3 linked regions of the Homo sapiens genome follow. The protein of the gene in region 1 interacts with the protein of each later gene in a pairwise test. Each region holds a gene or a part of one and is shown in the gene's direction. Other genes may lie near its edges.

What was found.
Region 2: the proteins of RNF34 (region 1) and UBE2F interact in a two-hybrid assay, tested with the Homo sapiens proteins (one large-scale study listed by BioGRID and IntAct).
Region 3: the proteins of RNF34 (region 1) and PHF7 interact in a two-hybrid assay, tested with the Homo sapiens proteins (one large-scale study listed by BioGRID and IntAct).

What each region holds. Positions count from the first base shown.
Region 1 is NC_000012.12:121,406,466-121,410,117, forward strand, and holds part of RNF34 (E3 ubiquitin-protein ligase RNF34), read left to right. Parts: intron 1-1,995; exon of another isoform or gene 1,996-2,010; coding exon of another isoform or gene 2,011-2,244; intron 2,245-3,652. Other genes in the region: KDM2B (lysine-specific demethylase 2B), read right to left, coding at 2,011-2,244. UniProt on the Homo sapiens protein: E3 ubiquitin-protein ligase that regulates several biological processes through the ubiquitin-mediated proteasomal degradation of various target proteins.
Region 2 is NC_000002.12:237,969,888-237,973,539, forward strand, and holds part of UBE2F (NEDD8-conjugating enzyme UBE2F), read left to right. Parts: intron 1-3,204; 5' UTR 3,205-3,220; coding exon 3,221-3,338; intron 3,339-3,652. UniProt on the Homo sapiens protein: Accepts the ubiquitin-like protein NEDD8 from the UBA3-NAE1 E1 complex and catalyzes its covalent attachment to other proteins. Together with the E3 ubiquitin ligase RNF7/RBX2, specifically neddylates cullin-5 (CUL5).
Region 3 is NC_000003.12:52,413,602-52,417,253, forward strand, and holds part of PHF7 (E3 ubiquitin-protein ligase PHF7), read left to right. Parts: intron 1-394; coding exon 395-447; intron 448-894; coding exon 895-986; intron 987-3,652.

The sequences.
Region 1 (3,652 bases):
CAGTAGAGATGGCGTTTCACCACGTTGCCCACGCTGGTCTCGAACTCCTGAGCTCAAGCAATCCGCCCACTTCAGCCTCCCAAAGTGCTAGGATTACAGGCGTGAGCCACCGCGCCGGGCTGGTGTTAAGTTTTTAAATACGATACCTGGTTTTTAACTGATATAAGCCAGGCAGACCATGGTCCTATGGTGGCTCTACTGAGAGCAGCTTTGGCTTAAGAGAGTGGGTAGGAAAGGGATTAGACTATCAAGAACAAGTCATTTATTTTTAGTAATCACTGATGACTAGAAAATAAACTCCAAACACAGGTGAATTCTCTGAGCTTGGAGTTTTGTGCTAGGCATAGGCAGACAGTTGCCTCATTCTCTTATTCTCTATGTTGTTTTAAACTACATTCATGGTCAAGAGAGGAAATTTAGCTATCTTCACGATTATCGTTCTTTTTTAAAAATATAATTTCAACTTTTAGATTTGGGGGTACACGTACAGACTTGTTACATGGGTATATTGAGTGACGCTAAAGTTTGGGGTACAGTTGGTCCCGCCAGCAGGTAGTGAACACAGTACCCAACAGTTAGTTTTTCACCCCTTGTTCCTTTCCTCCCTCCTTCCCCCTCCCCCCAGATTATTGTTCTTTCTAAACTGTTAGAAAAAGGGTTATACTTCTTACATACCACTTGGATGCATGTGGTATAACCCATGGAGTTTTGCTGCCAACTAAGGTCCCCAAGTAGGTCATGAAAGCCCAGATCATGGCTTGCATTTTGAAAGTTCCAGACTTTTCAGAGATCTGGCTTTGGGCTTTATTCACGGAGGAGTAACTGTAGGGTTTTTTTCCCCCAATGAACAAATAATGGATGGTGACCCTTCCATAAAGAAGGCACCACTTTGGAATTGAGGCCAGTGAATTGACTGCAAATTCAGAAGCCAAAAGGGTATGCCTAGTATACTGTCAGAAGCCAGAGGTGGGGGTATGCCTAGTATACAACAACTCAGTGAATTGACTGCAAATGCAGAAGCCAAAGGCATATGCCTAGTATACAACAACTCAGTGAACTGACTGCAAATTCGGAAGCCCAAGGGCTACGCCTAGTATGCTGTCTTTCCAGGAATTGAGTTTTCTCAAAATCTAGGAGGAAATGGAGTGGTTTGTAGAAGATGCTTCAATCTTACTATCAGTATGGAAGCAATGAATGAATAAAAGAAAAATAAAGGAATACAGGCTAATTTAACTGGAGGAAGATCTTAAAGTATAGGGAAGACAGAAATGGAACAGGAAAGAACATGAACTTAGGTCTCTAAAGCTTTTAAAAGGAGGGTGCAGAAGAGGGATCCTTGTTGGTTATGACCCTACCGGATATGGTAACTGGGTTCCAAGGAAATATAACAGAGGCAGAGTGTGAAGAGCTCAGAAAATAGATTGGCATATGTTCCCCCCATCCCTTGTCCCCCTCTCCACTGTAAGAGCTCAGATTCAATAAACCCTTGGGGAAATTGTCTTTTAAATAGTTCTCCAATTGCTTTTATAGGTTCTGTCAAGTCATAACAGAAAATGTGGGCCAAGCGTGGTAGCTCATGCCTGTAATCCCAGTGATTTGGGAGGCTGAAGCAGAAGGATCCCTTGAGCCCTGGAGTTTGAGATCAGCCTGGGCAGCATATCAAGACCCCGTCTCTAAAAAAATAAAAATAAATGGCCAGGTGTGGTGGCTCACGCCTGTAATCCCAACACTTTGGGAGGCTGAGGCAGGCAGATCACCTGAGGTCAGGAGTTCGAGACCAGCCTGGCCAACATGGTGAAACCCCGTCTCTACTAAAAATACAAAAAATTACCAGGGTGTGATGGCAGGCACTTGTAATCCCAGCTACTTGGGAGGCTGAGGCACAAGAATCACTTGAACTCAAGAGGCAGAGGTTGCAGTGAGCCAAGATCATACCACCGCACTCCAGCCTGGGTAACAAGAGTGAAACTCTGTCTAAAAAATAAAAATAAAAATAAAAATAAATAAAAACTAGAAAATGTGTACAGATTTAAGAGGGGAAAGATCAGTATAGGACACTTCAAGCACTGTTAGGTGAGTGTCAAGGTGACAGTTGTAGGTAGAGATGCCTTTGCCCTGAGGAGGCATGCAGAATAAATTTCTGAAATTTATGAGAAAGTACAGGAAGATGAAACATACTAAAGGAGAGCCAGGTAGATGGAGTCCAGGCTTGGAAGGATTTATCTTCTGGATGGATTCTTCATCCTGGAGGTGAAGAAGGACAAAAACACTTTGAACAATGGCTGCTTTTGATAGACCCAGAAATCACTGACTTTCTCCTCATATTGGGAGATTTCACACAAGAAAACGTGCAGAGGAGTTAAGGTGGGAAATAAAAGTTGGGGCCCAAAGGCAAAGAGCAAATAAAATCAAGGAGAGCACCAAAGTCCAGCAAAAGTTACAGGCCAATCTGTGGTAAAAAGGAAAGGGATTCATTGAAGAATCAGATTGTTAAAAACTCAGGTGACCCTTTCTTTTTTTTTTTGAGATGGAGTCTTGCTCGGTCACCCAGGCTGGAGTGCAGTGGTACAGTGGCGTGATATCTGCTCACTGCAACCTCCACCTCCCAGGTTCAAACGATTCTCCTGCCTCAGCCTCTCGAGTAGCTTGGACCACAGGCGTGCACCACCATGCCCGGCTAATTTTTGTATTTTTAGTAGAGACGGGGTTTTACCATGTTGGCCAGGCTGGTCTCAAACTCCTGTCCTCAGGTGACCTGCTGGCCTCGGCCTCCCAAACTGCTGGGATTATAGGCATGGACCACAACACTTGGCCAAAACTTAGCTGACCCTTTCTTAAAGGATTGGGTAAAACCAAAGTGGGATGCAAAATACTACATATCCCACAACAGAAAAACATGTAGACAGGTCTTGGGGAGTATGTTGCCGAGGCATTAGTTCCAGAACTCTAGGGCCACAGGCTTCCAAAGTAACCACAGCCCTTTCCACTCAGGAATTTGTGGAGGGTGATGTCCCAGCTGAAACAGTGTAGGCAGGAAGAAGACATCTTCCCTTTGACTGAGCAGGTCTTAAGCTTTTAACCTGGCCTGTATATCAGAATTACCCAGGGAGTTTTCAAAAAAATTCTGGTGCCCAGGCTGCACCACAGACCAGTGAAATCAGAACCTCTGGGCCTGGGACCCCAGGAATCAGTATTTTTAAAGACTTGCCTGGTGAGTCCAACATGCAGCCAAGGCTGAAAACCATTCTCTTAAGGGCAGTTTCACAACCCTAGGCAATTCCTTAGCAAGAAGTACTGACAGCAGCTACGAAGGTACAGGACTAAAACACCTGTTTCACTGAAGGGCAGCGGGGGTGGGTGTTACCTGGCACTTCAGTGCTAAAATGAATGTAAAGAAATTATGTTCATGGCCAGGCGTGGTGGCTCATACCTGTAATCCCAGCACTTTGGGAAGCCGAGGCGGGCGGATCATCTGAGGTCAGGAGTTCGAGACCAGCCTGACCAACATGGAGAAACCCTGCCTCTACTAAAAATACAAAATTAGCCGGGCATGGTGGCAGATGCCTGTAATCCCAGCTACTAGGAGGCTGAGGCAGCAGAATCGGTTGAACCTGGGAGGTAGAGGTTGCGGTGAGCCAAGATCGTGCCATCG
Region 2 (3,652 bases), on another chromosome or scaffold:
TGAAGATGTGCTCTTATGGAGGGCCACCTGAGGAGATGGCACAGTAGCGTAACAATGAAGAAACTAATGTTGGTTTATTTTCACATTTTTGTCAACTTTATTGAGGCGTAATTGAAATACACTAAATTGCCCATATTTAAATTGTGTAATTGATCAGTCTGAAACCATGACCACACTCGAGATAAAAACATTTCCTGCCCGGCATGGTGGCTCACGTCTGTAGTCCCAGCACTTTGGGAGGCTGAGGCAGGTGGATTGCTTCCGCTCAGGAATTCAAGACCAGCCCGGGTAACATGGTGAAACCCTGTCTCTACAAAAAAAATTAAAATTAGCTGGACATGATGGTGCCTGCCTGTAGTCCTAGCTGCTTTAGGAGGTGGAGGGTGCTGAGGTGGGAGGATCTCTTGAACCTGGGAGTTTGAGCCTGCACTGAGCTCAAGTCACGCCACTGCACTCCAGCCTGGGCTACAGAGCAAGACCTGTCTCAAAAAACAAACAAAAAACATTTTTGTCATCCACAAGAGGGAAACTAGTGTGTCTGTGGTGACAGCTTCTAGCAGCTGAGTGGCTTTGGGCAGCCTACCTTCTGGGCCTCTGTTGTCCTGGGGTCCACATGTTAAAATGGAATGGGAGTGAGAGAAGTCCATTCCAACTTTGCAATTCTGAGAGCTTATGACCGTGAAAGTGCAGAGCTGTCTTTGAAACCTTTAGACCAGTGCTTCTTAAGGGGTTTAGGGTATGTGTATGTCCGTGTCCTCTAGTGGAAAAGACTGTGCAGTTCAGAAGATCGTATTCTATGTATTGTTTTCGTTTTGAAAAAATTCTTTAAATTTTTTTATCTTTTGAGATGCGGTTTCACTCTTGTTGCCCAGGCTGGAGTGCAATGGCACAATCACTGCAACCTCCACCTCCCGGGTTCAACCTATTCTTCTGCCTCAGCCTCCTGAGTAGCTGGGATTTACAGGCACCCGCCACCATGCCGAGCTAATTTTTTTTGGTATTTTTAGTGGAGATGGGGTTTTGCCATGTTGGGCAGGCTGGTCTAGAACTCCTGACCTCAGGTGACCCACCTGCCTCGGCCTACCGAAGTGCTGGGATTATAGGCATGAGCCACCATGCCTGGCCTGTACTGTTTTCATGGTACAAACAATAGAAAATAAAATCTGACAGCATTTAGGGGATATGCAGAAGATGGTGTGAGAAACTGTGTAAGAGACCTGGGTGAAAAATGGTTTCAAATGCCAATGAGGAACGGAGTATTCTTATTTGACTTTCAGGATCTTAGCCTCAACCTAAAATTTCTGTGCTTAGGTCAAGCTTTTCACATGGAATTTTTAGATCATTTTCTGTTGAAACGATCAGAGTGGTATTGAAATAAAATGATACGAAAGCAACAAAGGAAATTATGGAAATATTGAACTGGTGACAATTTATTTTGTTTTATTTTATTTTATTTTTTTGAGTCTCACTCTGTTGCCAGGCTGGAGTGCAGTGGTGCAATCTTAGCTCACTGCAACCTCTGCCTCCCGGCTTCAAGTGATTCTCCTGCCTCAGCCTCCCAAGTAGCTGGGACTACAGGTGTGGGCCACCACGCCCGGCTAATTTTTTTGTATTTTAGTAGAGACGGGGTTTCACCATGTTGGCCAGGGTGGTCTCGGTCTCCTGGCCTCATAATCCACCTGTCTCGTTCCCCTAAAGTGTTGGGATTACAGGCATGAGCCACGGCACCTGGCCCTGGTGACAAATATTTGTCCTCAGTCAAAAGAAGTTCCAGTGACCCTCTCTGACCATGGCAAGGAGGACGATTAATGTCAGTTTATGTTAGAAACAGAAGGCAGAGTCTAGCGGATAGTTACTTTGTTACAATTAGTGGGATCATAATGTAAGCTGTGGACTTTGAGTTATAATGTGTTAATGTGGGTTCATTAATTGTAACAAATGTACCCTCTGGTGGGAGATGTTGGTAATAGGGGAAGGATGTGCATGTGTTGGGGCAGGGGGCGTATGGGAAATCTCTGTACCTTCCTGTTAATTTTACTGTATACTTAAAACTGCCATTAAAAAATAAAATCTTAAACAAATTGTGGCATTTCTTCAACCGTCTCCCAGATAGCAAGGGGCATCACCTGTGTTTGGTCTTTGTTGTCCCTACTAGTGAGCTTGCAGCAGGGGAACCTGCAACACAGATGGGGTGGAAGCCACCAATGAACATAATCTACTTTGGGACATTAATTTTAATTTAGTCTTGATGTTGAAATTGCCAAAAAATATAAATAAAACACAAATGTAAGTAAATGCAACACAGCATGAATAAATGAGAAGATGCTTATTAAGGCTCTATCCACACCTTTATTAAAAGAGGAAGGAGAGCAAAGAGTGGTGCTCCTCTTCCACCAGAGGCTGTGCTGCTTCAGTTGGTGATGGGCCAGAACCTGGGACCGTACCATGTGTGTGCATGATCCCCTGCAGCAGGGAAGGGCCAACTTACCAGTGGGCAGTAATGGACTCATGTGGAACCCATTGGTGAGGGCATGCTGGTTGAGAAACTGTGGAGGCCACCCTAGACCTTGTGTTCCACGGGAGCTTTGTCACAACCACATCCCAGGACCTGGCACCCAGTGAGTGTGAAATGCATGACTCTTTTTAATTTTAAATTTTTTTTTTTTTTTTTTTTTTTTTTTGAGACAGGGTCTTGCCGTGTCACACAGGCTGGAGTGCAGTGGCACAATCACGGCTCACGGTATCCCCAATCTCCCAGGCTCAAGGGATCCTCCTACCTCAGCTTCCCGAGTAGCTGAGACTACAGGCACACACCACCACTCCTGGCTAATTTTTTTATATTTTTTGTAGAGACAGGGTTTTGCCATGTTGCCCAGGCTGGTCTTGAGCTCTTAGGCTCAAGCAATCCTCCTACCTTGGCCTCCCAAAGTGCTGGGATTATAGTTGTGAGCCACCGTGCCCAGCCATGACTCTCTTTTTTAAAAAATGTTAATTCATAATTTTAAAAGTTAGGCTTATAGAGGATGGCATAGAGCTTCTCAAATGTATTATGAAGGAATCCAATCTTATTAATGTGTACAAATTTTTTCCATAACTAAATTGTGGGAAAAAATCAAAATACAAAAGCACTTATACATTTTTCTCAGTGTCTAATTAGTCTCTGGAGACCTGGTCCTTAACCCTGCTTTCATTGCTGTCTTTCAGGGTAAAGGCAGCAGTAATGCTAACGCTAGCAAGTAAACTGAAGCGTGACGATGGTCTCAAAGGGTCCCGGACGGCAGCCACAGCGTCCGACTCGACTCGGAGGGTTTCTGTGAGAGACAAATTGCTTGTTAAAGGTAATGATCATTCGTGTGAACTGTTTTTATATCCTATAACAAAAGGAAGTTTGACTGGAGAGTCTTTGGGGATATAAAGCAACCTACTGCTGAATAGAAATACCTGTTTAAAAGATTTTAAAATATAATTGCTTATCTCTTATAGTGAAGGACATTGTACCACGCAGGTGATATGAGCACACTGTTGCAAGGAGATGGTATTAGAAACTGCAGTGTGTCTTATACACTTGGGATGTTCTTTGTCACGTCTGCCAAAATGCTAGCAGAAAGAATAAGGTGCTGAGAGTCAGCAAAGCCTAAGACTGGTTTCAGAG
Region 3 (3,652 bases), on another chromosome or scaffold:
AGGCGGGTGGATCACCTGAGGTCAGGAGTTCAAGACCAGCCTGGCCAACATGGTGAAACCCCGTCTCTACTAAAAATATAGAAATTAGCTGGGCGTGGTGACAGGCGCCTGTAATCCCAGCTCCTCGGGAGGCTGAGGCAGGAGAATTGCTTGAACCCAGGAGGCAGAGGTTGCAGTAAGCTGAGATCGCACCACTGCCCTCCAGCCTGGGCAACAGAGCAAGACTCTGTCTCAAAAACATATATATGTGAAATATGAAAAGAAGCTGATGTCTTAGGCTTTAGATATGTTGGTCCTTCATCAGACCCATGAATGGCATTTTAAGAGAAATGTTAAAAAGGTTATCAACAAGATCCCCAAAGAACACCTTGTGCTTCTTATTTCTCTTGTATAGAAAATCTGCCAAGACTAGGAGGGTAACCCAGAGGAAACCGTCTTCAGGGCCTGGTAAGAAAGACTGGAGCTTGTGTTCGCCCACTGCCTCCAGCCCTCAGCAAAGAAGGCCACCTGTGTGGGGCAGTATACTTGCTTCTTCTCTCTCTCCCAGCCCTACTTCCTTCCTAGATTCTCTAAGATCTTGAGGACTCAGGAACTGCCATTTTAAATTACCATGTCTGAAGTTCAAGAAACAAGTTATTAAAGTCACTTTAGAACAAAACAAAACCAAAAAAAAATGAAGTGAGCAGTTGTGGCCAACTTTTTCATTGTAACCAGAATTATGTGACAGACTAATTGATACCACATAAGACCTCATCCCAACCTTCCTCCTTGCCAAAATGACCCTTTTCCTAGTATTCTACTCCTTCCTGACTTAGAGGAATGGTTACATTCTCACCCTTCTCTTCCATTCTTAATGGTCAATTTGAGCCAAATTCTGGGTGTCCTCTCTTCCAGTTTGCTGGCTATGCCTTCGAGAACCTGGGGATCCCGAAAAATTAGGGGAATTTCTTCAGAAAGACAATATCAGCGTGCATTATTTCTGTCTTGTGAGTATGAGGCCTCCTTTGCTTTGAATATCCTATGGCTTTTGGTGTACTGACTGTTCTCTGTTACATTCATCCTCATATCCACAGCCTTGTTTTTTTATTTTTCTTAATAGCTTTTTTGTTTTAAAATCTATTTTTAGGCTGGGTGCAGTGGCTCACGCCTGTAATCCCAGCACTCTGGGAGGCCGAGGCAGGAGGATCTCTTGAACCCAGGAGTTCAAGACCAGCCTGGGCAACCTTGTCTCTACAAAAAAATTAAAAAAAAAAAAAAAAAAGCTGGGTATAGTGACAAATGCCACTCCGGAGGCTAAGGCAAGAGGATCGCTTGAACCCTGGAGGTGGAGGCTGCAGTGAGCAGTGATCACACCACCACACTCCAGCCTGGGTGACAGAGGAAGACCTTGCCTCAAAAAAAGAAAAATATATGTGTCTGGTATAAAATCTTGACAGTATAAAGTAAGTTCAGTAAAAAAGTCTCTTCCCTAAACAATGTTCCCAATCCTTCTCCCTCTCCCCAGAAACAAATGCTGTCAAAGTTGTAACATCCTTCCAATTGCTTTTTCCCAGTATTTTTTTATTAGGTATAACTTTCATACTGTAAAAATCACCAATTTTTTTCTTTTTTTGAGAACGGAGTCTCACTCTCTTGCCCAGGCTAGAGTGCAGTGGCGTGATCCCGGCTCACTGCAACCTCTGCCTCCCTGGTTCAAGTGATTCTCCTGCCTCAGCCTCCCAAGTAGCTGGGATTACAGACACCTACCACCATGCCTGGCTAATTTTGTATTTTTAGTAGAGACAGGTTTCACCGTGTTAGCCAGGCTGGTCTTGAACAAAATTCACTAATTTTAAGGGTCCAGTTTGATAAGTTTTGATAAATGTATGTCCCCAAATAACCACCACCCCAATCAAAATAGGTAATATTTTCATCACCCCAGAAAGTTCCCTCCTGCCTCCTTTTCCAGTCAATCCCACTAGACGTAATCACTGTTCTGATCTATGGATTATTTTTGGCTATTCTTTTACTTCATATAAGTGAAATCATATAGTTTATAATCTTCTGTATCTGGCTTTTTTCTCCCAACACAGTGTTTTGGAGATTCATCCATGTTGTTGCATGCATTCATAGCTTGTGCCTTTTTATTACTTGGTAGTATTCGGTTGCATGAATAAGTTACTATTTGCTTATCTGTTCACCTGTTGATGAACATCTGAATTGTTTCCATTTGAGGACTATTATGAATAAAGCTACTTTAAGCATTCATGTACAAGTCTCTTTGTGAACATGTGCTTTCACTTCTCTTGTGCAGATGCCTAGAAGTGGAATTACTAGTTGTATGCTAATTAGATATTTAACTTTATGTGAGGTTGCCACATCACTGTCCAAAGCGGTTGTACCAGCTTACACTCCTACCAGCAATTTATAAGAAGTCCAGTTGCACAGTATTCTTGCCGGAACTTTGTTTTGTCAGTGTTCTTAATTTTAGCCATTCTACTGGGTGTGTATTGGTATTTCATTGTCGTTTTAATTTCCATTTTTCTGATGACTAAAGCTTCTTTTCATGTGCATATTGGCCATTCACATATTTTCTTTGGTTTTTTGGTTTTTTTTTTTTTTTGAGATGGAGTCTCGCTCTGTCGCCCAGGCTGGAGTGCAGTGGTATGATCTTGGCTCACTGCAGCCTCCACCTCCCGGGTTGGAGCAATTCTCCTGCATCAGCCTCCCAAGTAGCTGGGACTACAGGTGCCTGTCACCACGCATGGCTAATTTTTATATTTTTAGTAGAGACAGGGTTTCACCGTGTTAGCCAGGATGGTCTCGATCTCTTGACCTCGTGATCTGCCCACCTCGGCCTCCCAAAGTGCTGGGATTACAGGCGTGAGCCACCGCGCCTGGCCCGGCCCACATATTTTCGTTTGTTAAGTATCTGTACAAATATTTTTACCCATTTAAAAACACTGAGTGGTGGTCGGGCACAGTGGCTCACGCCTGTAATCCCAGAACTTTGGGAGGCCGAGGCGAGCAGATCAAGAGGTCAGGAGATGGAGACCATCCTGGCTAACACGGTGAAACCCTGTGTCTACTAAAAATAAAAAAATTAGCCGGGCATGGTGGCAGGCGCCTGTAGTCCCAGCTACTCGGGAGGCTGAGGCAGGAGAATGGCGTGAACCCAGGAAGTGGAGCTTGCAGTGAGCCGAGATCACGCCACTGCACTCCAGCCTGGGCGACAGTGCAAGACTCCGTCTCAAAAAAAAAAAAAAAAAATTGAGTGGTTTTATTATTGAGTTGTAGGAATTGCTTATATATTTCAGATACAAATTCTTTTTCAAATATATGTATTGAGACTATTTTCTTCCTAGTCTTTGGCTTGCCTTTTCATTTTCTTAATGGTGTCTTTCAAAGAACAAGTTTGTAATTGTAATGGAGCCCAGTTTATCCATTTTTTTCTTTTATGGTCAGTGCTTTTTGTGTGTTGCAAGAAATCTTTACCTACCCATAGAATTGCCTTGGTGCCTTTGTCAAAATCAATTGACCATATATCTGTGGATCTGGATAATCTATTTATGTCATTGATCTATGTATCTATTCTTACACAAGTCCCCACTGTCTTGATTATTGTGGCTTTATAGTATATTGAAATTCAGTATTGTTAAGTTCTACAATCTTT